Regions from separate parts of the Homo sapiens genome. Here region 2 is linked to region 1. The links come from fine-mapping of genetic effects on gene expression. A gene starts in region 1. The other region holds a variant in brackets. All regions are shown on one strand. Distances are from middle to middle.

Region 1 (16,145 bases):
AGATATCAATACAATACAGAAGGAGACTTTGATACGTCACTGTCTATAATGTACTGGTCATCCGGACAGAATACCAACAAGTAAATTGCAAACTATACAACACTATAGACCAAAGACCTAACATGCATATACAGAACATGAGACCCAACCATAGCAAAATAATCATTCTTCTCAAAAGGACATGAAACATTCTCTATAACTGATCACAGCCTAGGTCACAAAACAAGTCTTAACAAATTTAAGAAGACTAAAAACATTCTAAACATTTTGTCTGATCACGAGGGAATGAAACTAGAAATCAATAATAGAAAGAAAATGGAAAAATTCACAAATACAGGGGAATTAAATAACATACTATTAAATAATACTGGGTCAAAGAATAAATCAAAACAGAAATTATAAAATATCTCAAGACAAACAATAATAAAAACACAGTATACCCAAACATATAGGATGCAGTAAAAGCAGAATAAGAGAAGTGTTTATAGCAATAAATTCATTAAGAAGAAGAAAGAGGCAGGACACAGTGGCTCACGCCTATAATCCTAGCACTTTTGGGGGCTGAGGCAGGCGGGTCACTAGGTCAAGAGATTGAGACCATCCTGGCTAACATGGTGAAACCCCATCTCTACAAAAAATACAAAAATTAGCTGAGCATGGTGGTGCGTGGCTCTAGTCCCACCTACTTGGGACTCCCACCTACTCGGGAGGCTGAGGCAGGAGAATCACTTGAACCCGGGAGGCGGAGGTTGCAGTAAGCCAAGATCATCACGCCACTGCACTCCAGCCTGGTGACAGAGCAAGACTCTGTCTCAAAGAAAAAAAAAAAAAGGTCTCAATAAAACAACCTAACTTTACACCTCAAGGAACTAGAAAAAGAACAAACTAAATCCAAAATTAGCAGAAGGAAGAAAATAATAAAGATTAGATTAGAAATAAATGAAATAGAAAATTGAAAAACAATTTTAAAAATTGACAAAACTAAAAGTTCCTCTTTTGAAAAGACAAACTAAATCAACAAATCCTTGGCTAGACTTTAAAAATAGAAGACTCAAACAAAATCAGAAATGAAAGAGGACACAATTGATCCCACAGATATAAAAAGTATCATAAGGGACTATTATGAACAATTATATGCCATCAAATTGGACAATCTAAAAAAAAATGGGTAAATTCCTAGAAAAATATAACTTACCAAGACTGAATCAAGAAGAAATAGAATGCTTGAATAGACAAATAACAAAAAAGGAGATTGATGGAATAATCAAAAAATTCCCAACAAAGAAAAGCCAAGAGCCAGATACATTCTAGCAAACATTTAAAGAAAAATTAATACAAAACCTTATTAAACATATCTAAAAAAAAAAAAAAAAGAAGAGGGAACACTTCCAAAGTCATTCTGAGGCCTGCATCACCCTGATACCAAAGCCAGACAAATACACTACAAGAAAACTACAGTCTAATACATTTGATGAATATAGACGTAAAAATCCTCAATGAAATGTTAGCAAACCAAACACAACAGCACATTAAAAGAATCATATACCATGACCAAGTAGGATTTTTCATTGTGATGCAAGGATGGTTCAACATATGACAACCAACCAATGTAATATACTGCATTAATAGAATGAAGGATAAAACTCACATGGGCATCTGCACAGATGCAGAAAAAGCACTTGACAAAATTCGATACTCTTTTGTGATAAAAACTCCCAATAAACTAGGTATGGAAGAACCTTATAGCAAATTAGGTAAAGGAAAAACAAAATAAAGTCCATTTATGAGAAGCCCACAGCTAAGATACTTAAAGATAAAAAACTGAAAGCTTTCCCCATAAGATGAGGAACAAGGCAAGGTTGCCTACTTTAGCCTCTCCTATTCAGCGTAGTATTTTAAGTCCTAGCCAGAATAACTAGGTAAGAAAAATAAATTAAAAACATCCAAATAAAAAGAGAAGAGGTACAATATCTGTTTGCAGATGACATGATCTTAGATGTAGAAAACCTTAGGGACCCCAACAAAAATGTGAGAATAAACAAATTTGCCTTTAAAAAAGAAGGAAATCCTGCCATTTGCAACAACATGGATGAACCTGAAGGACATTATGCTAAGTGAAATAAGCTAAACACAAAAAGACAAATACTGTATTATCTCAATGTATGTGAAATCTAAAATAGTCAAATACATGCAAGCAGAGAATAGAATGGTGGTTGTAAGGGAACATGGGGAGAACAAAATGGGAAGCTGTTGTTCAAAGGGTACAAAGTTTCAGTTAGGCAAAATAAATAAGATCTGCAGGTACAACCCAGTGTCTGTGATTAGCAATATTGTATTCTTAAAATTTTGCTAAGAAGTTAGATCTAATGTTAAGTGCTCTTATCACAAAACGTGAAAAAAAGATGAGTAGAAGGAAACTTTTCAAGGTGATGGCATTGATTTCTTGTAGTAATAATGGTTGGATGGTTTCACAATATCTACTTATCTCCAAACAGAAACTGTATACATTAAATGTCTATAGCTTTCTGTATGTCAATCATACCGCAATAAACAGGTTAAAAAATGAAGCAGCACCAGATCCCTGTACACACACCTCTAAAAATAGTCCCTTTGTATATAAAGCACCCCAAATTTTCTCCTTCTGAGTGTGTTATCTACTTAATTAAGGGCCTGGACTACAAAATCCAAGTTTTCACTTTTCACCCAAAGTTTTCCATTCTCACACACAGAATTTTCTCGTTCAGTTAGCAGATGCAAGAAGAGAATTTCAGATATTAGCTTTAAATACTACATTCTTGTCTATACCTGGTATTACTAGCTCTACCTAATTCATTTTCTTTCTTACCATGAAATTATAGAAACAAAAAGGTTACTGCAAAACACTTATAAACATATTGTCAGCATGAAATAATTATAATTATCCTATAATAAATTGTACCTTTTGAACAATTTTGGTCACTTTTTGATCTTCGTGTATTAATAAGTTAATACATGTAAATCATAACCAGAAGGGAAAATCAAAACATTCCACTTACCAAGTAATGATGAAAAAGAGAATGTGTGTGATTTAGTTAATTTAAAATATTATAGAAAGCAACAAATAACAGAAATGGTATCTGGGATAAAGTTCCTGGACCTGGATAAGGATGTTTGGTGATATCTCAAGCTGTTCAACACCTTTGCACATGCCATTTCTTCAAGCTTGAAGAGATACAGAGCAACTCCTTCCCTCTCCCATTCTCCATCTGGCTAATACCCCTCGGCATCCTGCTTAAATGTCACCACCTCAAATAAGTCTTAGATCCCAAACTAATTAATCCCCCTCATTAATTTTCTCTAATAGACCCAGTTCTTTTCCTTCTTGGTACTTATCATAATAAAGAACCAAAATCTGTGCCAAGGGTCCAAAATAGCACTCTACCTGAAAAGCAACACTTAATCCTTGTCATTTCTCAGCTCTATTTCAGAATGAGCTGGGTTACTACCTGGGGTCCCATAACGACCTATATCCCAATGGCCTAGAAATAGAAGGAATACACCGATTCCCCCTCTTGATGCTGATTCTTCACTTTAATAAGCCACCACCATTGTCAGTCAAGATGTTTTGCACTGTCATCGGTCCCAAACTCCTGCTGGTTAGCCAGCTGTCTACTTCCAAGAAGAAAAGGTGAACACAGAAAAAAAGGCAAGAAATTCAAAATATCTATGCTTTTTACAGAAAGAGTAAATGGTACAATTATTTTGGAAAACTTACTGGTGATACCTACTAAAAGCTGACATACATGGGGCCTATGAAACAGGAATATGACTCTGAAGAATGTACACAACAGAAAAACACATACGTGAACCAAAAGATTTGAACGAACTGAGACTTTAAACAAAATGATTCATTTTTTAAAAACTGCCCCAAAAGTAATAGCATGGAATTTATTTCTAAATGACTAATTTTCTTGCATGGAGTGGGACTTTCATTAGATTATCAAAGGAGATTTTTCCCAAAGAAGAGTCATAAATAGGTATATAAACGATTAAGAACCTTTGCTGGAAGGAGGTAAGTTTCTGAACTATAAAAGTCTAGTCAGCCAGTAACGTGAAACTCAATAACTTACATAAAAACATCTACCACAACTGTCCATGGACACTTCATAGAAGAAAAGTAATACATAACAATACCTTGAGTAATGAACCCTTTGAGAATGAAGCTCCTTTAAAATGAAGTTATCACATTAAAATGAAGTCATTATATTAAAATGAAAACAGAACAATTCATAAATCAGGTGAAGCTGGGTTAGTGTGATCTTTTCCTCCAATTCGCATTACCCAGCTGTCCAGGATACAAATCATCCCTTTACACACCGTTTCTCTATCTTTAAATAAGGAAAGGTAAGAAGGTCACCGATTTACAAAATCCTAAATTTAGTAAGCTTCCTACTTTAAGCCCCTCGCCACTCATTTCCACAGCCATTTCCCCAGGGTAGAGCAACTGCTCCCTCTTTATGAACCTACCTTTCTGTTCCTAGTCTCCTTTATCAACATGGTAGGCAACAGCTTATTGAATATACTTTATAGACTTGTGCATGCACATTTTAGTCACTATTTTTCAGCCAATAAATTACTTCAACTAAACATTTACATTTCTAGACAGAGATAATTTTAGGTACTGTCAAATGGGAGATAACTAGAAAAAGAGAAAGTCATCCTGAAATCACATTATACAAAACACTGGCCAAGAAGGTAAACCCTATTTAATATCCTTTAGACTGACTGGGGGTAGATGGACACACGGAAGCCTAAAAGGGATTTCCCAAGATAAGCCTTTACTTTCCTGAAAAACATGAAGTGAGGACTACTCTGGCTTTAACCGCAAAAAATGTATTCTTGGATTTTGCCACTGGCCAATATAGTAGGTCTGAGCTTCTTTCGGGTTCCAGACCCATCTATCGTAACACAATTCTTCTAGGGATACCTTCTTCCCAGTAACTTTAATGTAAATTCTATGTCTTTCCAGACTTCCTTTAGTCCTTCCAGATGTATATTCCATTTTCCCAGTGCAAGTAATTCTGTTTTACGTAACACTTTATGATATCTTCTCACCTTTCCTTTTTCTGACATTTTGGAAAACATTTCAGTGTCTCTTACATGATTTCTACCTCTGATAATGGAATTTCTGACAACAAAGTTATGTCTCTCTTCAGTACCAGTGAATAAATATTTTGAAGAGTAATACAAGCAGAGCTCGTGAACGAGGTAAGTGATAGGAGACAGAAAAATAAAGGGATTTAAAATTGGGATTATCACAGAATAAAATTACAGCTACTGCTCTACATTCTCACAAAGGGCTTTACTAAGTCTACTATAAAATTCAAAAGCCTTAAAAACAAGACATTAAAAGAAGCCAATCTATTACTTATGTACATTTTAACACCTTACTTTCATTAATGAAAAATACTTTTAAAAATTTAACATTTTCAACTTATAGCACTGATCAAAGGCAAACTAAGGAAAAAAGGAGATACCACTCAGCTTGCAGCATAGATTCAATAATAAAGAAGCTCTCAATATTCCTTTCTAGCTTCCTTCCTTGTCTACAAGTCAGATCTGCGCAATTGAACTTGTGGGAGAGGTTGTGAAAATAGTGTACTCTAGCAGTTTAGGATTTTCAACATCGCTCAATCTCATTGCTGTTAGAGGTCATTAAAACAATGCCTCCCAATAGAATGTCACTGGACCAGAGTGATTTTTGTTTAGAATGAAGCAACTACACTGACTCTAATAACAGTCAATGGCTAAGAGTTTGTGACATAGCACATAATGCTCGATATTATCTAAAAACACGTATCAAAAACAAAAAAGTAAAGATGAGAAAAACAGTTTATGAAACTGCAAAAGATATTAGGGAAATACTTCTCTAAGAGATAGGAGAAAGGTCTGAGAAAGGCAAAGCATCGAGAAAGCTGGGCGGGAGTGGGGAGGAGTAAGGGACAAGTAAAGAGTTCAACGGGACTGCTGTGTTCACACATAAAATTAAAAGGTCTGCAGATAATTCGGGAAAAAAACAGTCTAGCATGGCCATAATTCCAGAGTAAAAGAGAATAACAACTTCAAGATTAACTTGTTACAGTGAGGGAAAAATCTGTAGCCTTCAATAAAGGTGGAGAAATATTTGAAAAGCTGGGGAAATGCCAACAAGGAAAACACGAACTGCTGTCCTGTCTTCCTTATAGTCAGGAGCCGTTTGTATCCTCACCCCAGAGGATCCAATAGGAATCAGTAAGCCTATAACTTTCCAACCCTAAGTCACAACCTAATTCTGATAGGATGAGCTACCACGATACTTCCCACTTCGTTGTGACTAAAAGCATATACTAGTTGGGTATATAAGCAAGGCTCCCCTCCCGCCATTTGATTTAAAAGAATGAAAAGGCGGATCTGGTCATTCGTCTCCGCCCGGGGTCTCTGTAAGGACGGCGGAGAGAGGCGACCTCCGCCCAATACCAGGCGCAGCCTTGCCGTCTCCTCGGGGCTCACCAAGCAGCCACCAGCAAAGAAGCCGGTTTCAAAGGCCCAGCACGACAGGGAGAGGAAAACGGAGCATATGCAACCATACACAGTCACCAGAGTCCAGCCTCCCGCAACCAGTCGCTACAGCCAGGCGCCTGCGCCCAGAAGCGCTTCTCGCGCCGACCGTTTGTATTTGGAATTGTGGGTTCCTGCCCGCCACGCACCACCGCAAGACCTTCAAAGCTGGGAGCTTCTCTGTGCTCCAGGATTCCTCGCTGCCGATTCCACACCGCGTTCAAGACTCCTGTGAAGAGCGACTCCGCTGAGAGCCTCCTCAATGGCCAGTCCACTTCTAACTTGCAGCTGAGAAGTTTTTCTGATCTTGATGGTCAGAGTGGCTCGTGCTACGAAGTGAGAAACAAGGAATCTATAGCGAATCGTAAACAACAGAAATAAAAATGCGTCTCCGTTAAGAGTCGGAGCCTAACGTCACTTCCGGCAACAATAGGAAACGTCAAAATTGGGATAGTCGGCAGTTCTGGCCCCTGCAGCTGGAGGTACCCTGAGTTCTGAGGGTCGTAGTGCTGTTTCTGGTATTCTCATCGCGGTCACCTCTACCGGTGTGGACAAGTAAAGTTTGAATCAGCTTCTCCATGGCCTGGGCACCAGTTCCCGGCTGAGCCATTTTCCTTTTGGCTAAAAGTCCCCGCCCAGAGGCCAATTCGTCGCGGCGGCGGTGGAGATCGCAGGTCGCTCAGGTACAGGAGTCAACCTAGATATTTTAGATCTCTTGTCTCTTTTCCCTGTTCACCTTCACTTTTCTCGAAAATAAAGACAACCAGTGCTTGCCAGTTGGCCGAAACTGGCCGACCAGCAAGAGTTTGCGACCAATGACAGTGCGAAGCATCTTGAGTGACAGTAGTGGTGGCTCATTAAAGTGAGGAATCACTGTCAGGAGGCGGAACTGGGTGTGTTCCTTCTGTTTCTAGGCCATTGGGGTGTAGTTCGGTTTAGGACTCCAAGTAGTAACCCAGCGTCATTGTGAAATAAACCTGAGAAATGACAAGGGTTACTTTCTTCAGGTCCAAGTGTTGGTTTTCGGGTCGAGTGTTATTTTGGTTCCTAGACAGTTTTTGGTTCTTTACCACTTTCCAGTAATATGAATGCAAACACAAGTATAGTTAAGATCACGATGGATTGCTAGCTGCTACAGTAGTCAAACTTGGGTTATAAAACTTGTCAAACTTGTCTTTTATTTGTTTCTCAGCGACTGGGTTCTAATCTCTTACGTAGAAGGTTCTCAATATTTATTTGGCAAAATCACATAAATGGATCCCAATCCTCAGTCATTTAATTTTTTTAGTTTTATTTTTAGGTTCTGTATGAATTTACTAATAAAATAATTGATTCTACTTGTTTTACAAGTAAAATATTCATTTTCAAGGCTCCTAGGTGTATATCCACAAATGAATATATCATGATTTTTATTACGGTAAAGTGAAGACAATTTATGTTTTCTATTTCAGCTTTCCTCTTCCTTCTTTTAATGTTTGAAGTAATGTATTTCTGAGGTAGGAGCTCTACACACTTCTCAACTCTACCCTTCACGAAAATGATATGTGAAACAGAGTAGGTTTCAGAATAAAGAATGCATAAGTTTTATTATTTTTTTCATATTGGGTCAGAAATTCATCTTTAGCCAATTAACCTGACAATATGTCTGATGAGGTACTTCATTAGTTGTCTATTGCTGGGTAACAAATTACCCCCAAATTTACCCCAGCTTAAAACAACAAATATTATCAGTTTCTGTACATCAGGAATTAGGGTGCAGCGTAACTTCATTTAATAATAAGTTACAGCAAATTAACTAATATTACTTGGGGCCCTTGGATCAATTACTTCCATCCACAAAATATTATAGTAACTTCTAGATAAGCCAAAACATTGATCATAATTTATTACATATGGTCACTTTAATGGGGAATGTTTTGTGTGTTTACTGTTGCTAGGTTAAAAGATATCTTCCTCATTTTACAATATAAAAACATTGAATTACCAAATCTTTAATCACAGTGTGTTGAAATTAGTCATTCAGATTTGTAACTTTATGGTTTATTATTTAACCAACTGCTAATGTACAACTAATTTTTTCCTCATTTTGATTCAGATTTGGAAACTGGCACTATTCCATTGACTGACCCATGATAATGCATCAAAATCATTAATACTAAAGTCTAAGAATTATGCATTTAATTTCTGTTTCTTTTTCTTGAATTATTTTACTTAAATAATTTTTTAAACAATTTAAATGAAATACATCTATTTCTGGAAATTTATGTTCACTATTTCTTTTTCGTTTTGCTCTCATTGTTTTGTTTTTCTGACAAATTTCTTGACTTAGCTCTCTAATAAACTAAAACATTTTTGGCTGACTTGAATAAATTTATATCATATTTGGGGCAAGTATTTTTTTGAGACAGATTTTTATTCTGTTGCCCAGGCTGGAGTGCAGTGGTGCGAACAAGACTCACTGTAGCCTTGACCTCCTAGGTTCAAGCAATTCTCCCTCCCACCTCAGCCTTCAGAGTACCTGGGACCACAGGCACACGCCATCACGTGTGGTTATTTCTTTTAATTTTTTTGTCTGACTGTGCTGCCCAGGCTGGTCTTGAAGTCCTGAGCTCAAGCGATCCTCCTTCCACAGCCTCCCAAGGTTCAGGAATCATAGGTGTGAGCCACTGTGCTGGTGCAAGTACTTTATAGCAATATAAGATAAAAATATTTGTGGTTTGGAGTTTAGGCAACAGCTTTAGGGAGTTTAACCATTTAGTCAGCAGTTCGTGTATTTTTCAAGAATAGATTGCATAGGATTCATAAGCTATTTGAATGAAGGAACCAGATTTTAGCAAGTAAGCCAAGCTTGGAGAGACTCTATATGGAGTAGTGATTTGTGGAAGTCATGAATATAGGGAAAAAAGAGATGGAAAGGACAGATGTTAAATACACACACACGCACGCCATCATCTCTTCTTTTATTTATTAATTTGTTTTTCAGAGTTTTTTCCCTCATTTTATTTTTATGGGATCACAGAATTGTTTCTTCCAATTTTTAAATTGTAGTAAAATATACGTAACATAAAATTTACCATCTTAACCATTCTAAGTGTACAGTTCAATGGTATTAATTACATTGATAATGTTGTGCCACCATCAACACCATCTATCTTCATTACTCTTTTTATCTTGTAAAACTGAAACTCTATACCTATTAAACAATAATTCCCCTTCCCCATTCCTAGGTCCTAGCAATCACCATTCTACCTTTTGTTTCCAGTTTTGGAAACCGGAAGTGTTTGTATTCATATTACTGGAAAGTGGTAAAGAACCAAAACCTCATATAAATGGGCTTATCCAGTATTTGACTTTTTTTGACTGGCTTATTTAACTTGGCATAATGTCCTCAAGGTTCATCTTTGTTGTAGCATATGCCAGAATTTCTCTTCTTTTTAAGGTCACATAACATTCCCTTATATGTGTCAGCCACATTTTGCTTATCCATTCATCTGTTATTGGACACCTGGGTTGCTTCCATGTTTTAGCTGTTGTGAATAATGCTGCTATGAACATGGGTGAACAAATATCTTTTCCAGACCCTGCTTTGAATTCTTGAGGGTATATACCTGAAAGTGGAATTGCTAGATCACATGGTAATTCTGTTTTTAATTTTTTTTTAGGAAGCTCCATATTGTTTCCGCAGAGGCTGTACCATACGTATTACATTCACATTAACAATACATAAGGGTTCCAGTTTCTCCACATCCTTGCCAAGACTTATTTTTTTTTCGATAGTAACTATCTTAATGGGTATAAGGTGGTCCCTCATTGTACTTTTGATTTGTATTTCCCTAATGATTAGTGATGTTGACTGTATTTTCCTGTGCTTATTGGACGTTAGTGTATTTTCTCTGGAAAAATGTCTTTTCAAGTCCTTTACCCATTTTTGAATCATGTTTTTGTTATTGTTGAGTTAAAGGAGTTATCTGTAAATTATAGATATTAGATTTTATCAGATACATGATTTTCAAATATTTTCTCTCATTCGGTGGGTTGCCTTTTTACTCTGTTGATACTGTCTTTTGATGCACAATTTTTTTTTAATTTTCATAATGTTCAGTTGGTCTGTTTCCTCTTTTGTTGCTTGTGCATTTGGAAATCATTGCCAAATTCAGTGCTGTAAGCCTTTTGCCCTGTTGCCCTGTTTTTTCGTCTAAGAGTATTACAGTTTTATGTCTTAGATTTAAGTCTTTGATCCATTTTGAGTTAATTTTCATAGATAATGTTGGGTAAGGTTCCAACCTCATTCTTTTGAATGTGGATATGATTTCTCAGCACCATTTGTTGAAAAGACTGTCCTTTCCCCCATTAAATGATCTTGACACCTAGTCAAAAATCTTTTGACCATATATGTGATGGTTTATTTCTGGATTCTCTGTTCTATTTCATTGGTCTGTATGTCTCTTTTTATGCCAATACCATACTGTTTTGGTTACTGTAGCTTTGTAATAAGTTTTGAAATCAGAAAGTGTCTTCCAGCTTTGTTGTTCTTTTTCAAGTTTGGTTTGACTATTAGAGGTCCCTTGAGATTCCATGTGGATTTTAGAATTTTTTTCTATTAATGCAAAAAACGTCATTATAATTTTGGCAGGAGCTACATTGAATCTATAGATCACTTTGGGTGGTATTGCCATCTTAATAAGTCTTCCAATCTGTAACCACAGGATGTACTTCCATTTATTTGTCTTTCACTTCTTTCAGTAGTGTTTTGTAGCTTTCATTCCAGAAGCCTTTTACCTACTTGGTTAATTCCTAAGTATTTTATTCTTTTTGATGCTGTTGTAGTTGGTATTATTTTCTTAATTTCCTTTTCAGATTGTTTATTGTAAATGTATAGAAATACGACTTATTTCTGTGTCTTGACTTTATGTCTTTCTACTTTGCTGAATGGATTTATTAGTTGTAAGTTTTTGGTAGAATCTTTAGGGTAACTACAAAGGATTTTACTGCTTTCTTTCCAATTTGGTTGTCTTTTACTTTTTTTCTTGTCTAATTACTCTTGGAACCATGGAATTTTATAGCTAAAAAAGACCTTAGGGAACACCAGTTTCAAAACCCTTATTTTACAGGGGAGGAAACTGAGACCTCAAAATTTTAGTGACTTGGCTGATGCTCCCTACTAGCTAAGGAAGGAGACTGAGTCAAACTCATGTTTTCTTTCCATCAGTCTCTTTTCACTATTAAATGTTTTCTCATTTTTCACCTTCCTCCTATTTCTGGCTGCCTTCAATATTCATTTAATTTAATACCTTGTTTTATTTGTATAAAAGCAACTCAGTGAGAATTATGACTTTTGTTTTGGTTTTTAATTCCATAGCACTCATAGCAATGGCCTTTGTGGTTAGTGGGCAGGTGAGTATGTGTATACTGAGAAGGTGGGTTAGGATATGCTACCATGACTACAGCTGATTACAGCCACTTTAAGTAAATAGTGATACAATTAAGTAAGAACCATATAATTAAAAATAATGCTAGTGAGAAGTATGATACATTTATTTTAAAGTTTCAAATAGTTGGACAATGGAGCATTTCTTGAAAAACAAACCACAGAAATTGAATAAGCCTAAAATTCTTAGATTTTTGGTTGCATTTAAATAACACATCTTAATTTTTACATTTATTTAGTTGCCATTTTGGTAACACTTTTTATAGAATAAAATTAACAGGAAAAAAACCTTCAGGGAACAAAGTAATATTGTAAATCTTTTTGAATTAAAAAAAACCAAAACCTGCAAATGGTATGCCTTTTAGTAACAAAAACTGCTCTTGCAGGACCAGATCTTTAAATTTAATGAGTAGGGGCTTTTTATGTGTTCAATGTACCTTGTGACCTCTTAGTACTTAGCTATTTCCCTTTTCTCCTTAGAAAGACCTCCTTGTGGACTTACCCTTCCTTTATTTCTCTACATTTGTTGCCTTTAAATTTTAGGGATGTGATTGGTTATCAGGGTTTTTTTCTTTTTTAAAAAATTTCTCTACGCAGTCTGTTCTAAACTTCTTTGGTGGTCTATTCTTTTGGAAGTGAAGAAATAAATGCTAGGCTCCTGATTTGATTCAAAATGTCTCAGAAAATATTTTCTCATAGACTCTCCCATGTTCTTATGCTATTGAATAATATCACATGATATCCCTTAAAGATTTTTAAAACCTGAAGTAACCAAAAATAGAGTTGCTACTTTTTACTTAAAAGCACTGAAAATTTATAAAAACATATAAGTGGATTTCCTTATCGTTAGAATTTGTATTTTAGAGATAACTATTGTAGCACACATTTTAAACCTTTATCTGAGACAGGACATTTACTTATAAATTCCACTATTTAGACAACTAAGAAATACTGAAGAAAAATGACCATTTATAATGTGTATTTAAATGAGGCTATTCATATGTCAGTCATTACATACCAATGATTTAACACCGTTTGCTCAGTAAAAGCTTTATGGAATTGGTTTGCTTCAAACAAAAGTACTTAAAGCAGAATGCTTTTTTGAGACATCCGGACTCCTTTCTATTCTTGCCATCTTTCCCTGTGTAGATTTTATATGCCCAAATAGTATATAAACCATTCTTCATTACTTATTGTCTGCACAGCATGTGCCATTTGAGTGCTTAGTGCCATGAAATTATAAGCAGTAGTTACCTTTTTCTTAATAAATACTACTTTATTTTGGTGTTTAACTTGTTACAGAGAGATAGTTTGATTAAAGCTGCTTAATATTTTACAGATAGACTTTGTATTAGATACAAAATATTAATAAAACTTGTATTTTAGTCTTTTTAAGAAATAGTCTACTATTTTGAATAGGAAACAAAACATAGTAGTCAAAAATACCATCTCTTAGAAATGTAACGATCTTCTAGAAGTTAAAAAGTATAGAAAACTATTATTGTTCTTATAAATTTTAATAAATGTGTAATTATTTGTAGTTAATCCATAGTTTGTACTGCTTTTAAGTGGAAGCGCTTTTATGCTGTTGTAACAGACTTGGTTAGACTAAAACTGCTACTTTAAAAAAAATACATCCAAAATTATGTCAGAACAATATAGCTGTTTCAGAAACTACATACTGCTTTACCAATTAAAAGATGCTTTTATATACATTCTCTTAGTTAAGGCTCATAGCCACCCTGTAAAATAGATAGGAATGATTTCCCCCATTTTATAGGAAACAAAAGATCAGAACCTTGTTTGAAATACCTAAGGTCACACAGCAAGTTACAGCGTAATTGGAGCTCCACCTTTAAATTCATCCTCCACAGTAGTAGTGTCAAAAAACTTCTACATTACTGTAAAACAGAGATTATAGTATATAGCCCACTTTAGAGATTTCAGTTTTATTTATTTATGCTGAAATTAGCATAATAAAACTGAAAGTGGACAAATTAATTTTTAAAAACCAAAGATCTACACGCCACTGCACTCCAGTCTGTTGACAGAGCGAGACTCCCTCTCAAAAAAACAAAACAAAACAAAATCTAAATATATTTAAATTTTTTTTAAAAATTGGCTCTGTCAGGCAGTCACAGTGGCTCATGCCTGTAATCCTAGCACTCTGGGAGGCCGAGGCAGGCGGATCACATAGTCAGGAGTTCAAGACCAGCCTGGCCAATATAGTGAAACTCCGTCTCTACTAAAAATACAAAAATTAGCCAGGCATGGCGGTGCGCGCCTGTAGTCCCAGCTACTCGGGAGACTGAGGCAGGAGAATCGCTTGAACCCAGGAGGCAGAGGTTGCAGTGAGCCGAGATTGTTCCACTGCACTCCAGCCTGGGCAACAGAGCAAGACTCCAACTCAGAAAAAACAAGTTGGCTCTGTCAAATAAATATTTGGTCAATATGTAATAAAAGTATTACTGTTAATATTGCTATTGTTATTTTAATGGAAACAAGGGCATATAAGAATATAGGAGATTCTAAATAAAATTTACCAATTTTAATGTATTTTAATAAGTAGAAGCATTTTTCTACAGATATTAGAAATATAATATTTGTAGCAATCCAAATTAATTCATATAGCTTATTACTTTGTTTTTAAATAAGTAATTATACCAATTTTCTAATTAATGTATTTTATATGTACATTGTCTTTTTTATTAGACTAAGAGTTACACAAATATCGATCCTTTTTGCATTTGTACCTTACTCTGTTGTTTATATATCCTATGTAAGTGGTCAAAACATCATTTAGGATTTGTGTCTATAAGGATTTGTATTCCTTAATTCCATCTTCTTTTGATCCATATGTATTCAAATTTACCTGAAGTGAGAGATGATTCATAGGTTGTAGATTTTTCACAATTAGTTGGATTCCCAAAATCTAAAATAGTTACTATTTGTGAAATGATGGTAGACTTCCCATGTCTTTGCTCACCCTCTTTAAAGCATTCATTAGAGTTTCTAATTCCTTTTTATAAAACATCTTTATTAAGGTATCATTTACATACAATAAAATTCATTCACTTTAAATGTGCAGTTGCCTATCCTTTTTTAAACTTTTTTTGTTTTTTTCCATCCTTCTATGATTTTTTAAGATAATTGTAGATGTACATGCAGTCTCAAGAAATATAGAGTCATCCCTTGTACACTTTACCTAGTTTCTCTGATTGGTAATAGTTTTGTAACTATAATATACTATCAAAACCAGGATTTTGACATTGATACAATCCCCCATCTTACTCATATTCCCCTAGTTTTATTTTTACTCAGTGTACATATGTGTGTGTATGAAGTTCTGTGCAAGTTCACATATCCAGCACCATAGTCAAGATAGTAAATAGTTGTAACACCACAGGGATCTCTCACACTGTGCTTTTATAACCGTACGCACCTCTCTCCTGGCTAATGATGTTGACCATCTTACCATGTGCTTATTTGCCATTTGTATATCCTCTTTCATGAAACGTGTGTTTATATCTTTTGCCCATTTTTATATTGGATTGTTTGGTTTTTGTTTACTATTGTTTTGAGAGTTGTTTATATATTCTAGATACTCGTCCGTCAGATATGTGGTTTACAAATATTTTCTCTCAATCTGTAGGCTTTCCTTTCATCTTCCAAATATAGACTTTCAAAGAGCAAAAATTTTTTATTTTGATGAATTCGATCAATTTTTACTTTCATGATCATCCTTTTGATATAAGTCTGGGAATTCTTGGCCTAGCCTTAGACCCCAAAGATTTCCTTCTATGTATTTTTCTAAAATTTTTATAGTTTTATGTTTTACGTTTAAGTCTATGGTCCATTTTGAGTTAATTTTTGTAAAAGGTGTAAGGTTTAGGTCAAGGTTCATGTAATTCATTTTTTTTAAAATCAGTGCTTACTAATCGTTTATTCATTCAACAAATATTTTCTGAGCACTTTATATGCCAAGGCACTGTGTTTGATACTGGGTTTATTCATGTAACCTATTGTGTGGAGTCAGTTCCTTATTTTAGTACTTACAGTCATCATTTTGCATTTTACCATGTTAACTGAAACTAGTGCGTGTTGGAACTATGGCCTTGCTATGTAAATGGCATCTCTCCAA
Region 2 (16,145 bases), 31 kb after region 1:
TTACCATGTCACGTTCTAACCTTTCTACCTGTTCACTTTATGTAGCAGCATCCATGATATATATTCAGTCCTCTACTGACCTGATTACAATATTAGTACATTATAAGTAGAGAGCACAAAAATTTGATAATAAGAACACAGAGTGTGTTCATCAGATTTTATCTGCAGCAGTTTTTTTCTGTTTATTGTTTTTCCTTAGTAGTGATGTTACTTTTATCAAAGATAATCATTGAGGACATTGTTCTATTTTCTGACAAATCAAAACGTTGTCTTCAAATAATGCCTTTAACAATATAATTCCATGTTGACATAGGAACTATTTATAGATTGTTATAAAATTGAATAATTTTGTATTAATTATTTAATTCTTTCTTAACATAACATGTAAGCATGATCAAAATGTGAAAACAACTTTTTCACTGATTTTTTTTTTCTCTATTCTTATTTTACTATGTCATGGAAAAGTTCAGATTTTCAGAAATGTTTAAATACTTACAGATTTATTCTTAGAAATCTAAGTGAAAATTATACAGCACTCAGAACTACTACTTTTGGGTGCATTATTTTTTGTGGAAAAATTTAATCTGCAGCATTATTTTAATTTACCTAATTTTCAAAAACAACTTTTTTTCATTTGTTGTCGAGGTATTAATGACAGTTCAAATCATACAGCCAAGTATTTTCTAAAGTTATCTTAACTTTGTTATAATTAGGGAAATGTTTCTCCTATGTAAAATATTTGAGTCTTAAACAAAAATACCAATTTTATACGTATGCATATAAAAATACCAATAATATCTTTTTCTAATCAATTGATTTTTACTTATGTATGGTTTATTTTTTGTTAAATTTTTATGGTACATAAATTTAAAATAAAATAAAATGCCATTGCAAAGGTTTACTGATACACTTCTTACCAGTTAAGTCATATCTCCAGAAATATAACAAAGTATATATATTGTAAAGCCAGGTATAATATTTAAATTCAGATATTTCTTTTCTTTCATCACTATTTAAAGAGGTATTACTGTCAATGAATAGCAAACTGATACCTTAATGAAATTAGAATGATTTATACGAAGTTCAAATTACACATTTACCAATATAATATTGCTTTTTAGAATCAAATGATCATTCTTCAGAAAGGCAAATAAATGGATAAACTATTTATCATAAATTTAAATGTTGTTATTGTGCCTTTATTGCACATTTTTTCTCATGCCTTTTATTATAAAATATACTTGTTTTCACCTTGTTTTTGGTCAAATCCCAGTTACTGTCCATGTAAACATATGGCAACATAAGAACGTCACTTTTTTTATCCTGCACTGTGGCATACCTGCTCTTACAAGAGATTCTGCTGCACTTACATATTCAAATGATGGCACAGTTATAGAGACTTTATTATTCTTAATTCTTTATTTAGACTTAAACATTATTTGTTGCTAATTAAAACAGTTCATATGATGAACTTTATAATAAAATATATATTTTTCAGGCCAGGCATAGTGGCTCATGTCTGTAATCCCAGCACTCCAGGAGTCTGAGGCAGGCGGACCACTTGAGCCCAAGAGTTTGAGACCAGCCTGGACAACATAGGGAGGTCCTGTCTCCACAAAAAATTTTTAAAAAATTAGCTAGGCATTGTGGTGCATTCTTGTGGTCCCAGCTACTCCGGAGGCTGAGGTAGGAGGACCACTTGAGCCCCAGAGGTCAAGGGCGCAGTAAGTTGTGAGAGTGAGACTCTGTCTCAATGATAATAATCATAATCATAATAAAGATATGTAGCCCCAGAGGTCAAGAGTGCAATAAGCTGTGAGAGTGAGACCCTGTCTCAATGATCTTAATAATAGTCACAATAAAGATATATATTTTGCATCAGTCTGTTGAGGTAATTGAATGATGATTGCTGGAGTAAAACTGAGGCAGAATGGTACAGTGCTGTACTGTACAGTACATAAGAATCAGGAGAGGCAGCTGTTTTAAGCCCCAGTCTTATTATGCCCATTTAATCAAGGCATGCTGGCTCCTGTCATGAATTATTCTGATGTTGAGTAAAACTGTCATCTTCAATTCATATCACTTTCAAATGTTACATTATAAGAGAAATGTAACCTGGTAAGTACTAAGTTGTAGATTGTTACAGAGTCAGAAAAGTTGGATGTAATTGCTGATATTGATTATGGTAAGTAGTCTTTCCTTGCTAAAGGAATGCCAATTTTTAAACAAATTATAAAGCAATCATTTTTACACAAAGATGAAAATACACATGGGTCCTCATATGCTAAAATGTTATATGTATAGGTTTAAATATCTAATTTGGAAAAGCTAGACATATAAATAGGTTTTCATCCTTGCAGCTACCAATATCAAACTATACAGTTCTTGTTAGTACCTCCTCTAGGGTGTTTGGAGAGGGGGCAGAGAAAAGAGCTCAAATTCAAGTTGTTTTTATATCTGACATAATTTTTTAAAATTATAAGTCAAATGTTTGTTAAGGGAGGGGATTTAAGTTATTAATTAAAATAAGATTTTTAGATCTTCAGATTTTACTTATCTATCCTACCTTCCATTGTTATTGAGAGTTGGCTGTATTTTCTTTTTTTTTTACTCCCTGGCCTGATTTAAAGATACTCTGGAACATTCCAGAGGCACTGAATTTATCATTCTAAAAGGGCCATGTAGTACTCCCAGGAGGCATAGAGCTGAGCCACTCAATGTGTCTTGAGGTTCCAAAATTCTGATTCTATGCTTTTATGAACATGTAATTTAGCAGATGTTACCTAATAGCAAAAGAAAATGCTATCTTTACCAGAATGCACTTAGGAAATATATAGGAAAAAAAGGACATTGCAATACACTTAATAAGGTCAGAGAAATGAGGGGAAGTAGTTCAGTGACTATATTCTGTACTTTCTTTCATTGACTAACATAAATAATGTTAACTTGGCTAATTGTTTACCAAGTCAAGTATTCAAAATTGAAATCATGTAAGTGAAAGATCCATCCTAATAAATGTTCTTATATAGCACTTATCTGTATGAGTCATACTTTAGCCAGACTTTAGAATGACTCTTGCCAAGTTTTTTGAGTGCTCAAAATTAGGCAGTACTTTTTGGAGACTGTATTTTGTTTTCTTTTTCCCCACTCACTGGAGCACTGTCATCAGATATATTATTTTAGGTTCATTTAACTCTGAGCAGTAAATTAGTTTTGATGATACGTTTAAATATGTGATGCTTTTTGCAAGTACCTGAGATAAGATGTATATAATTGCTTAGTATTGTAAAAAGTCTACTTTTTCATAATTTCCAGTATTGTACTTAACATTTTGATAGCAAACATCATTAAAATATTATAAAAATAAGAATACTTACAGCCACAGGGAACAAGATTCTCCAAAGGACACCGTTCATGTCACGGATATGGGTAACCAAGCTCCACAGCAGCTGCTGGCAGTGGCTCATGGGGTGGGGGAGAACATCTGCACAGTTTGTGGTACGATAATCTGGCACGCTGTTGTACTATGCATGACATTGTGATCTCAGCTGTATGTAACGTCTTGATCTTGTGCATGAGCTTGTGTACTTTGTGGCAGGTGGCCACATTCTAGTAAAGGAATGTGCTGAAAACCATCTGTTTACATTAAGTTGTATTTTCCCTGCATGTACAAGTTGTGTGTGTCAATTTTATTCCACTAGCAGTAGTATAATGAAGTAATTTTATTTAACAACCAGTAAACTATATTACTTGTGCTCCAATGTATATTAAAACACTTTCTTGACGTAGTTATTTTTAAATTTAGGATCTGAAAAATTGGTAGTGAACATGGTTTAACTTTAATATAGGCTTATTTTTGTTTGTGTAATTGTGTTTTTAAACAGTTTTTGTTTTAAATATCCTCATTGGGGTCAGATAACAAGTTTTTTTTTTTAATGACTATGTAAGCACATTTTTCTGGTATTTATGCAGAAATATCCACATGTGTATAATTTTATACATTTTACTAAATAATCTATTATAAAAATATTTTAAATTTGACCTATCCACATGTTTGAGGTAGAAATGAATATGCAACTTATTTTCAAGATAACATGTTATTTTTGTTATTGGACCAGCTAAAGTATAAACAGGAAATTTGTAGTTCTCCATTATAGAAAGCATTTCAGGAATTTACATTCAGTTCTTAAAAATAGTATCTCAGATATATGTTAATGACTTTTTGCTCCAGTATTCAACAACAAAATCGTCATTACCATTACTTCATAGCGTAGCAACAGTGGTGAAAAATAACTTTAACTTCTATTCCTAGGGAATGAAAACCCTCATGGGCATTATTAGAATGTACCAATAAACATTTCCCAAGTGCATTCCTTGGGAATACACAGTTAAAAAGGAATTCTTAAGTCTAATTTGAACATGATAGATTATGATTAGTTGGCTTATTTACAGCCTAACTTTTCAAAGCCGTTAATACTTTGATGTACATCGTGACTATCTAACAAGGGGGATGTTATATGCAATATATATCTAATTTTGTTTGACGTGGTGTTCTTTTTTGGGAGGAGGAAGGTAAAAACATTCCAGGGAATACATTTTGAAATAACCTAGTATAGATTATCTGTAATCCTACTGTGTATAAATAAATATTTTAGAATGGTTGAAATACCCTGTTGTTCACTTGCAGTTATCTGATGTAATCTTCTCTCTTATCAAAGTCTGTGGGTCTGTAATTGTTTTCTTTCCTTTGGTCTGATAGTACTTACTACAAAACAAACAAACAAACAAACCCTGAGAGTTGAATTGAGTCTTGACAGACTGAGAGATTTTTCCATTTTATATTTTGATTACCATCTGATTTGGAAAGGGAAGTATTACTTTGGACAGTAAGGGTAAGGCAATAAACCTGAAAGCAATATTGAATTCAAATAACTGCCTGTACATATTGATAAATATATCTGTGTCAAATAATTTGTAACTAATAGACCATTCATCATTATTTACTTGGTATCGCATTCTCTGTACTAACTCTTTTAAATCTTAGTACCTCCTGCAACACAGAAGTATTCCTAATGAAAGCTGACAGGCCACTAAGATACTTTTTACTTTAGAAAATATACTACCTTTTGAGGTTTTATCCTTAGTTCTATACATCTAGAAATTTGGCTTTATCTTTCTACTGAAAGTGAATCTCTCAGGAATAAACTTACAGGTAGTAGAATGTGAACCAAGTTGACAGTAAGACACACATACTTCAAACAATGCCAGATAGCATAAAGAAAGAGAAAGATAAACTCGAAATTCTAATTCTTGGCTGTGATATAAACTAAGATCTAGCTAGGAAGAATTGAGTTCTCAGCACCCTTCATTATGCTGCTCGACTCAGCATGTTCCACATTTTATGACTGGCTTCTTGCAGTACCCACTTCTCCCTGTATGTATCAGCTAAGATGTTTTTGGCTGCAAGGAACAGAGAACCTAAACTGTGACTTAAACCCTTTACATTTGTTTACTTCAAAAGAGTCCTGGATGCAGGTATCCCAGTTACTTTAGTGAGATGATGATCTCTTGATGGACCTGAGTGTGTTGACTTTCACCCTCTCTTGATAGCAAGATGCTACCACAACTCAAAATATCACTTCCCCCATAATAGTGTCCCCAGTACAAAGAAAGAGAGGCAGAAAAAGAAGCTTTCTCCTCATATTCCTTATACTTATTAGGGAGAAAAATCTTTTTGAGAAGCCTTTGGCGTACTTCTACTCATTTCTTATAGAACATAATTGAATCACACGAGCACCCCTAGAGCACTAGCGAATAGAATAGAAAGATTACATGATTGGCTTAGACTTATAATTCAACAACTGCAGCTAGGATGCTAGAAGAAATGAAAAACAGGGAAATGGCCTTTGTTAAGGCATCCAAGCATCTGTAACGCCATTTTAACTAGTGATACACTTAAAACATGTGATTCAGCCTTCCTTGTTTCTGGTCTCTGCTGGGTTAGAGGCCTTAGTATCCAAAGGAGGAACATTGGCACCTGTGGCACAACAATTTGGTTGGTAGCTGACCCTACCTTCTTGCCAGTTTAGGTCTTCCTGCT[A/G]CTAAGCAAACATATCAAAATTTTAAAAGGGAGGAAGACGGGATAGGAGGGGAGGTGGTTATGCTGTGATTGAAGTGGTTAAGCCTGATAACCAGAGGGAAATACTACTACACAGTGTGGCAAAAGAAAAGGATATAGGTGGAACTCAAGAGATGTCTTGGGGTTCCTTCTAGTGGCACTATATCCTATGATAAAAGTAATTTTTTAAAAATCACACTGGGCCTACATGGCCAAGGCTTATAACTCACCATTTAGACTCCTCACTAGGGAAAGCACCTCAACCAGTTGTGTGGCTGGCTCATTCCTAGGGTCCAGAGTTGAATATGGATTCTTTATTCCAAGCTCCATTCACCTTGAAGGATGCTTTTATGGCATCCGTGTAATCTATCTCTTGACTCATGAGGTTGGAAAATATGTGTATAGAGAAAGATTTTTTAGATTTTTTATTTTTCTTGAGACAGAGGCTCACTCTGTTGCCCAGGCTGGAGTGCAGTGGTGCAGTCTTGGCTCACTGCAATCACCACCTCCCGGGCTCAGGTAATTCTTGTGCCTCAGCCTCTGGAGTAGCTGGGATTACAGGTGCATGCCACCACACCTGGCTAATATTTTTTTTAGTAGAGACAGGTTTGCCTCAAGTGACCCACCTGCCTCGGCCTCCCAAAGTGCTGGAATTACAGGAATGAGTCATCATACCTAGCCTATTTTTTAGGTTTAAAAAAGAGACACAAAGAGGTAGTATTGTCTGTGCGTGTGTGTGTGTGTGTGTGTGTGCATGCACTCACATGCACAAGTACATGTGTCATGTACACCTCTAGGCATTGGTATGTGAGAATATAATGGCATGACCATGTGCAGCCATCTGGTAGCCATGAGGGGTATTAGTAACCCTACCAAGAATAGCAGACTGGAAAGAAAGAATTGGGTCTGTGATGCTATCTGTGAGCCCAACAACCTGGAGCCATATTAGTTTGGAACTTCTTGTTATACAAGGTAATTTTATTTTTGAAGTAAATGTATCCCTTTATTTTGAACTAGGTCTCCTGTTGTTTATAACCAAAAACATCTTGATGTATTATTGCTATTATTATTATCCAGACTCTTAGGAGTTTGAGATGTAATCCTCAATGCAAATTTTTAAAAATAAACATTGCTAACTGGGTACAGTCAGTGGCTCACACCTGTCATCCTAGCAATTTGGGAGACCAAGGTGGGTGGATAACTTGAGCTCAGGAGTTTGAGACCAGCCCAGGCAACATGGTAAAACCCTGTCTCTACAAAAAATACAGAAATTAACCGGGTATGATAGCATGTGTCTGGAGTCGCAGCTACTTAGGGGGCTGAGGTGGGAGGATCACTTGAGTCCAGGAAGTTGAGGCTTCAGTGAGCCATGATCATGCCACTGCACTCCAGCCTGAGTGACAAAGCAAGACCCTGTTTCATAAATAAACATTGCTAATTCTCAGTAGCAGATCAATTTATCTCCAAATTTGCTGAAGGGAATTTAATCAGGGCAAAAGAAGCTAGATGACAGTGAGAGGAGTCCCTCACCAAATATGGCTTAAGTAGCTCCCCCCTCTGTAAGAACTGTTTACCCATAGGAGCTAAAATGCTGGAGTTTATGGCAGGCTCCTTCTCCTTGATCAGCATTAGAGTCAAAGTGAAAAATTATGCCTCTCAGACACTAAATAGCCTCTTCCTCTGCCTAGACAACTTAATACCTTCAAGCGACTAGCTACAATTAGTCAAATGGTGCTAAACTGGAGGTGATTTTCTTTTTTTTGAGAGTAATATGGTATGTGTGGATATGCATGTGTGTATGTGTGTATGTATCCATCTCTTTTTAATCTAATCCATCAGGTGATTTTATGGTTAAGAAGGCAGCTTTACCCTTTGCCTTTTAGGACAACTTTAGTTTACACCTTACCCTAACCATACTCTATCCCAGCCACCCTCCTTTTCCCTTTTCTCCCAGAGTCACTCCAACATGTGGTGTAGAATCAGTTCCCAGAGGAGGTTTGTGGACTCGGAATAAACCTTTTAGAAACTTGAAAGAAAGACAAATTTCCGAGGCCCTCTTCTAATCTTTATCTGGTTGAAAAAGAGATTCAGGCCCTAGAATATTCCATAGTTTATTCATCAATCAAACCACCTGATGTATTTTGCTCTTGTTTTATTCAGTGTGCTATGGGAACTACTAATTTGCTGTATCATTGAGTGTGAATTGTCTAGGGTAAAAACTGAAATTAGTGGAAAATGTCTTCATCCTAGGATACATTTTTAAATTTTTAATATTAAAATATGATATGCTACAATGAACAATTTTTTATTTGAATTTTACTTTTGTTAGCAATTTAAGTAATTGTAACTAGAGACTTTACAGTGGTACATTGAGCTTTTTAAGTGCATTTTAATGAAAAATCTGTTTGCTTTTTATTTTCTCATCATACACTACCTGACCCTCTTGATACCTCCCAAATATTTTTCCTTATCTATTGTGATCACAGTTTCAGTGAAACTTGATATTACTTCTAGATTTAAGTTCTCAGCTTTAATGTCCAAGGTGTCTGCCTCTACATGTCTTTCATGAATTTAGCAATTGTTACCAGTGTCACAGTAGATGTCACTTCAAAATATGAGTATTGTGTCAGAAACCCAAAGGATAATATTTCCTCAATTCTTGGATGTCATCAATTGTAAGACATCCATCAACTTACTTTCAGCTTTTCAAATATGGGAGTATGAAGGAAACACTACCTTAAGTGCATTTTTTAAAACCAGCTAACTGTAGTGTACATTTATCCATAAAACTATATAACGTTTTCTTCTTTTATATCATAAAGTTTTTAGAGAGATGCCTTCTTTATAACAAAATTCCTAAGATTTCTGTAAATCTCTTTTGGTTGTTAGCAGTTAAATATAGCATCAAAGTGATATGCTACTTTGGATTATTTGGATTGGTGACTCTGACCTTTGAGAATCTATAACTTGAGGTATTTCAAAGTGTGCTGGGGTTTTATCTGCCGCTAATATTTGATCCAGCTTATACATTTTATGGAAGGGGGTTGTTTTTGTATTTTTCCCTTGGTTGAATTATATAATCCTTGGAAGTTTACAGCATGTCTTGAAAGTCAGCTGGAAGCTTTGTACACGTAGATTCAAACATTCATTCAACAAATATTTATTAAGTATCTCTACCACTTACAATTTATGTAATGTTGGCTCTGAGCAAGTTATTTAACCTCTGTGCTTCAGTTTCCCCATCTGTAAAATGGGGACAGTAATAATACTTATAACAGTGTTCTTGTGAAGATTAAATGAAATAAGACATGTTAAACATGCCTCTAAGTGTTCACCAAACTGTAACTCTATGTTTATACTAAAGGTACAACTACAACAACTTAAAATACCAAGAACCAGGCACTGTTCTAGGCCTTGACGTTCTTCCTCTTCTTGAACTTTTGGATTCTAGTAGATAACTATATGACACCTGACGAATGGTCCTTCATGAAGTATGTATTGGTCACATCAATATCTCCTAGCTTTAAATGATACCCTTTGTCTTTAATTGTATTTTCTGACATGTATATGCAATCTTTTGCATATACAGTAACATTTTGTTTCAGTAGTGCTGCTGAGTTTAATCTTTTTGACATTTAAGCAATAATTAGGGGTCCAGAGTTATGTTAAAATTAAAATATGTGTCTTGGCTACAATGTTGGCAGGATGAACAGATACTTACGTTACATGATTAAGTATATACATGTGCTAGCAGTGAAACTACCATGTAAATCCCAACTTGCTTGTCTACTAGTAGACTTTTTTTAAAAATGTTGTTTACTTTAAAACTGTTTCAGAGCTGTTAAAATATATTTATAAATGTACATATTAAGATCTAGGTAATATGATAAAACTAGTATTTATGGGTTAGTCATTTAAACAGTTGTATATATGCACATTGCAAATCCAGTATTTGTATGTGATTCTTATAAAGCAAGAATTCTAAATTAGCTAGCATCATTGTTAAATGTGTCACTTTCTCATTAGTTTCAATTATTAATCATAACCTAATAGAGATTTATCTCCATATTTTGATTAGAATGCTTTCTTTTTCTAATATAGAGACAGGTTAGAGATAGAGGGGGCTTTTCCAAGAAGCGTGACTCAACTAGCAGCAACTTTTTTGATAATAATTACAATAATGATTGTTACATTTAATTGATAGTAGTAATTTATTATTTAGGAAATACTTTCTTAGCTATCATATTGATCCATCCCAGTCACTAATGTGGTTCTTTTGGGGGATATTAGAATTCACAGATGTTCTTTTTCTGTTTGAGGCTATTAGAACGAATTAATAGGGGCTTTTAATTATTTAAAACTTTAGAAAATTAGGTTCATGTTATTTTGTTTGCCATTGCTTTTTCTCTCTTGAAAAATAAGCAGGAAGACCTGTCCTATACCTCCTCTGTGTTTTCCCTGGACTCCATTGGAGGGAATTGTTATTTTTATTTAGATTTTCCTTAAACCATCACTCTTTTATGTGGGATTTTCTGTTGACATCTTTTAACTGCAGATAATTTCAGGTGTATATATCTCTGTCCTTAGCAGTTCCTCAGCATTCTGCTCTTTAATATGTTGAAAAGTCTTCCATAAATCATTCTAGCTGAAATCCTTGCCAATTCAAACAATGTTTATACATAAACTGGTTTAATATTATACGAAAGGTAAATGTAAAATCAAAACTCTTCATTATCCTCCAGACAAAATATGGTATTATGTTTCATAGCTAACTGAGAAAACTGGCTACAGGATACTGGCACTCTCTCTTCACAGCTGTTAATTCTCCCACTTCAGTGTGGACAGTGTGTGCTCTCTGTTCTTGCTCTGGAAGAAAGGAGACTGAAATCTGCTATTTAGACTTAAAACTGACATCAAAACTATCTTTACATTTCTTTCCCAATTTTCACTGCCCCCTTTCCTCTTAGTTCTGTGTAACACAGAGCCTTCTGGTGAATAGCCTAGTTATGGGTTCCTCAGTGAGAGGAAAACTTAGTACTCTTATAATCTTTTTATCTAGGACAACTTTTAAAATCTGGGCATAGATTTTACTTTAGTCTTTGAATCTAGTGACTGTATTAGGAATAACTATTGTTATATTTATAGGCAGCTTAATAAAAGCAATGTGTGACATTTCTGTTATGTATGTGCTCAAGGTCAGTGTTAAACATAGAAGGTCATGGAAAATTACAGAAAGCAGAAAACATTACAAAATTTAGTGGGTAGAAAGAAATGAAATGACAGGATAAAAACATAGACACCTAGTCTTAAACATACTAATTAAGAAATCTTCTGCGCTTATTTCACCGCAGCCAAAAAGCAAGGTGTTGATTTTTTATTTGCATAATAAATATCCTCAGATAAATATTGTCAATTATTCACATTCTGTGAGGCCCACCCTCCCTTAACTATAGAGCACATGTTCTCTGCTTAAATAGGGAGAATGAGAACTTCTGGACTGATAAAAATTAATAGATTTTACATTTACCTTAGCAATTCTTCAAACACTGTAGAAAAGAAGAAATAGTATCAGAGCAGTCATCTTAACCATTGCTGCTGCTATTTGCAAACAAAACAATGGGGATGTTCCCATTTGACCTGCAGATGTGTCAATTATTTTTACTATTAATAACGTATATTGTGTCACTTAATTTTTACATTATCTTCAGTTTGAAAATGTTACATTTCAGTTTAAGTTTCATTGTGCTCAAATGTATACTTGAAAAATAATATATTCAGTTAGTTTCACTGTGGTTAAAATGTATACTTGAAAAATAATATATTGGTTATCATGTTGAAAGAAAAGTTAGAAATCTAGATTGAGCTATATTGTTTAAGTATTACTATTTTTAAAGTCTTCAAAATGTTTTTTTAAAAGAAAATTAAATGCAGTATCCAATTGGCTTTCTATTATATAATGGTCTAAGGGCAGTTTGATGACCTGAAAAGTAGTGGCCATTGTACTAGATTTTACATTTTATACAAGGACGAAATTGAACAAAACTTGCTAAATCAAATTTTTTTCTAAATTTCTTTACTATGTTGTTCTTTAGGAAAAAAATTAAAGGTACTCCCTAGTATGTGACAGTTTTGTTTTATTAGTGACACCAATAAAACAAAACAAAACATCATGTAACTTTTATTGATACCAACTGTTACACAATGTGTGTGCCAGGTGTCTGTGGCAGTAGACAGTACTTTCAGTACCAATTATCAGTACTTTTTCATTTGGCTTTGCATGTCTAATTTTCTAGAATTCACTCTGTTCCCAAATATATATTTACTGATTCTGAACATATGTATGGTAGATTTTGCTTAACCTTAACAAGAGATGGGCTGAATTCACATTAACTTCACCTAGATTCTCACTGCTGCTTGGCACTCCTTTAGTTTATTCCTAGTGAATTCCCAGTCATATCCAGTCATATCCTGCATCGTTGTTGATAGAAATCTTCACCACTTTGCCCAAGAATCCAAATCAGCCCTCTCTTTTCCAATGCTCCCCAGATAGACCTAAGAAAGAAACCAACATGTTCTTTGTTTTCTGCTTTTCACTTTCTTACTGTAGCTGTCTCTGAGCCGGTGCTACTGTGCTGTCCCCCAGGCTAATCATTATAAACTCCAGCAGTATTTTCAGACCTTTCCCCTGCTCTCTTTTTATCGGCTTTGCTGCCCCTGCAGCAAAATCTCCCGCACATCAGTCTTTTCCTGTCTGCATTGACCTCTCTTTTTGTCTTCTAACATGAGTAGGTCATAATTATCTTGAAAAAAAAATACTTTCTCTTTTTTCCCTTTAATTTTGCCATTTTTTCCTCCTTTGTACTAATATATTTTTCAAGTGAGTGGACAATACTCAGTTTCCTTACCTTGAGCTCATTCTTTTGTTTTCTTCTTGGATTTCAGCCTCTGCTACAGTGTGGAAAGAGACCTCTTGAAAGTCACTTCTTTCCTCCCAGTCACCAAACTCAGTGCCCTCTTCCTATTCTAGTATCCTTCAGCTATTTGAAAGAAAAAGAAAACTAGCTGTGTTCCTTTTGCTATGCACTTAGCCCACTGAGATTTTTACTGATTAGGAAACTGAGGCTCAGGAAGATTGTGTAGATTGTTTATGTTCATATCATCATTAAGTTGCAGAACCATGGCTTGGTCCCTGTCCTAAAAATGGTGCTCTTTCCATCATACTGCATAATTGCACTAGACACCCTGTTCTTTAACTCGAAGGCTCTTGGCTTCTGGAACATTATTCTATCATTCTCTTCATTACTCCCTTACTAATCCTTCTTATCCAAGATCCTGAATCTATATCTTCAACCCTCACTTTTAAAATATATCCTATTACATTACCAACTGCCTACTATGCCTTTCTAGTTATATCTGTCATCACCTAAAATTCAACATGTCTAAAAGCTAACTCATCACTGTTTTCTTCAAATCAACACCCTCTTTGACTTTTTTTGACCTGTCCATCATTTTTCTGTCAGTCATTTCCCTCTTCATCTAAGCCAGAACCATCAGCTGTCTTTCACTTTTCACTGTCACATGGCTTGATAGTCAGCATATTTATCAAGTTATTTTCATATATGTAACATATATGTAACATATACAGTTGTATAGCCCGCTATCTATTTATTTTTATTTTTTAAGTGAGTGCTCCGCTGAATAGCCCACTATCTAATTTTTCTTTCATTATTTATCTTTATATTGCTGCCAAATTCACATTATAGCCCATTGCTTCATCAGGTTTAAAAGCCTTCAGAGGCTTCCAGTTAGATTTAGGATAGAGAATAAACTTCTTACCCTAAAATTCAGCACTATTTCTGTCACTGTCATAGTCTGGTTGTACATTTACTCTCCAACCCAAAATATTTCCCCTGCCTTCCTAAAAATAGTCTTTAAAAATTATATATTACTTTTGCTCATATAATACAGTATTAACTGGAACATTCTTCTCCAGTGTTCCCCTCATTCAGAGCTGTCTAAACCCCTTAAATTCCTTGTCTAAACCCCTTACAATACTTCAGTCTAATCTCTAGCAGGAAACCTTATCCAAACGTCCTATCCCATAGTGACTTTTCCTTTCATTGAACTCTGAAACACTTACTTTTCATAAGCATTCATTTAGGTTTTCTTCTACTGCCATGTATTATTGATGTACCTTGGCACGTGTGTATTCTAGATGTTTATGTATGTGTCTCATTGCCACAGATAAACTTTAAATTTTCTTAGGGCAAAACTCTGTGTTACACTACTCAGTGTCTATCACTGAATACCTTGCATATCACACCTTGTGTTTAATATGTTTCAAAAATAAAATGTGGACAATTTTAATGTATTGCTTCATGTTTTAAAAAATATTTTAAAGCAGATGCATATATGTAAATATGCACAGATATACATATATCTATTTTACAAGCTAGTCTTATAGGCATTCATCTTTCTATCTAAATGTAAAGTGAATTGGATACTTTTTTAAAAAAATCAAATGACTAGGAAATTTTTAATTAGTAGCATGGACATTATTTACCAGTTTATTTTCCCAAGAAATATGAGGCCTAATATCTATTTTAATAAGAGGAATTTTATTTACCCCACTGTAACTATCCTTTAAAACTATTTTTTAAAAATATATTTTGGCCAGTAGTTTCCTTTCACCTGACAGGAGCTGATCTCTATGCTTGGAGGTATCTGAGATTAATCATGATGGTTTCAGCCCATGATAGTACTAACACCATCATGATTCATCTCAGAGTTATCTGACAAAACTATCTTAGAATTCTCCCCACATGCAAATAAAAAGGAACTACATTATGACTGCAACAATTTAGATAATTCTAAAAGTTGAACAGAGTTGCAAATGGGAGTTAAAATGTGTATAGATTAAACGGTCAAATTTAAGTAGTTCTGAGTTTGAAGCTTAATCTTATTTTGAAAATGTAAGAACAACAACAACAACAACAAAATTGAATCAAGCAAAGACAAATGATTGGTCTTTGAACAGCTCAACTAAAGTTACAAGCATTCCCTTCCTTATGTGGTACTAATCTGTCTGCCTATAATTGAGATTTCCTGACTTTACATCTATACTCATCTAGGATAAGGATTTGTAACCTGCAGTCCTTAGATGGAACTCTATTTCTGTTTTAAAAAATGTGTATGTGCATTATTCTGGGAAGAAGTTCTGTGACTTTCCTAGTACTCAAAAGGGTCCATAGCCCCCCAAAAGAGCTTAATATCTTCACTACAACCACACACATCTTTTCCTTTTTCCTTGTGACACAGTCTTTTAGATATCCTAAAGTCTTAATCTTTTCTTCTTTCCTAAGTATATCTTCTTCTCTGGCCTAATACTCCTATGTCCCTCCGCTCTTTCTTACATAACATGAATTCTACAGCCTTCAACGATCTCACCAGGTCTTGATTTCCTTTATCCAGATAAGTCCTAATTTGTCAGTATGCCTTATAAAATGTGACACCCAAAATTGGAAACTTTTATAGTCAATTTTGTAGACTATACTGAGCTACAACCTTCCTTCTTTAGAATACTATATATATATATATCTAGACTAATGATTTCCTTTGCATGTGAGACACTGCACAGATGTCCATGCACATACACACTGCTCAGAGTTCTAGTCCTGACTAGTCACTGATATGCTATGTGGTCTAGGAGTTTCTCTGTACCATTCTTCTAAAATTTTATTTTTAAAAATGTTTATACCACTTACTAAACAAATATGTAGTTATTCAACAGACCTCATGCTGTGGTATTTTTTTGTATTTAATTGTACGTTGGTGCGAAAGTGATTGCGGTTTTTTGACATTACTTTTAATGGCAAAAACCGCAATCACTTTCGCACCAACCTAATACATAAGAAGATAAGAATTTGGGTGACTTACAGCTTGCTTATTAGAGACAGTTATAATCTGTTCTCATGTCTTTTTGTATTTGTTATTCCTTTACCATTCACTTTGGTAGCCCTTCTAAAGT

Which allele goes with the higher level. Positions count from the first base shown, and alleles are read on the strand shown. Sizes are in standard deviations (SD) of each study's normalised expression.
For the expression in sun-exposed skin of the gene that starts at base 6,758 in region 1, allele G in region 2 goes with a lower level than allele A (small effect, 0.20 SD a copy in GTEx).

The links. PIP is the estimated chance that this variant, and not a neighbour inherited with it, causes the effect.
Region 2: its variant is fine-mapped to the expression of CEP44 in sun-exposed skin (GTEx, PIP 0.97).

The regions. Positions count from the first base shown.
Region 1 is chr4:174,274,524-174,290,668 of GRCh38, reverse strand. CEP44 (centrosomal protein 44) reads right to left here and starts at 6,758. Exons shown (of 12, transcript NM_001040157.3): 1 at 6,726-6,758. FBXO8 (F-box protein 8) reads left to right here and starts at 7,002. Exons shown (of 6, transcript NM_012180.3): 1 at 7,002-7,259. RefSeq lists a silencer at 6,526-6,793 and an enhancer at 6,558-6,807.
Region 2 is chr4:174,243,380-174,259,524 of GRCh38, reverse strand. All of the region lies in intron 3 of FBXO8 (F-box protein 8), which reads left to right. Among named protein-coding and RNA genes, the nearest start is that of LINC02268, 31 kb to the right of the region's middle. The variant A/G (reference allele first, on the strand shown) is at 6,101.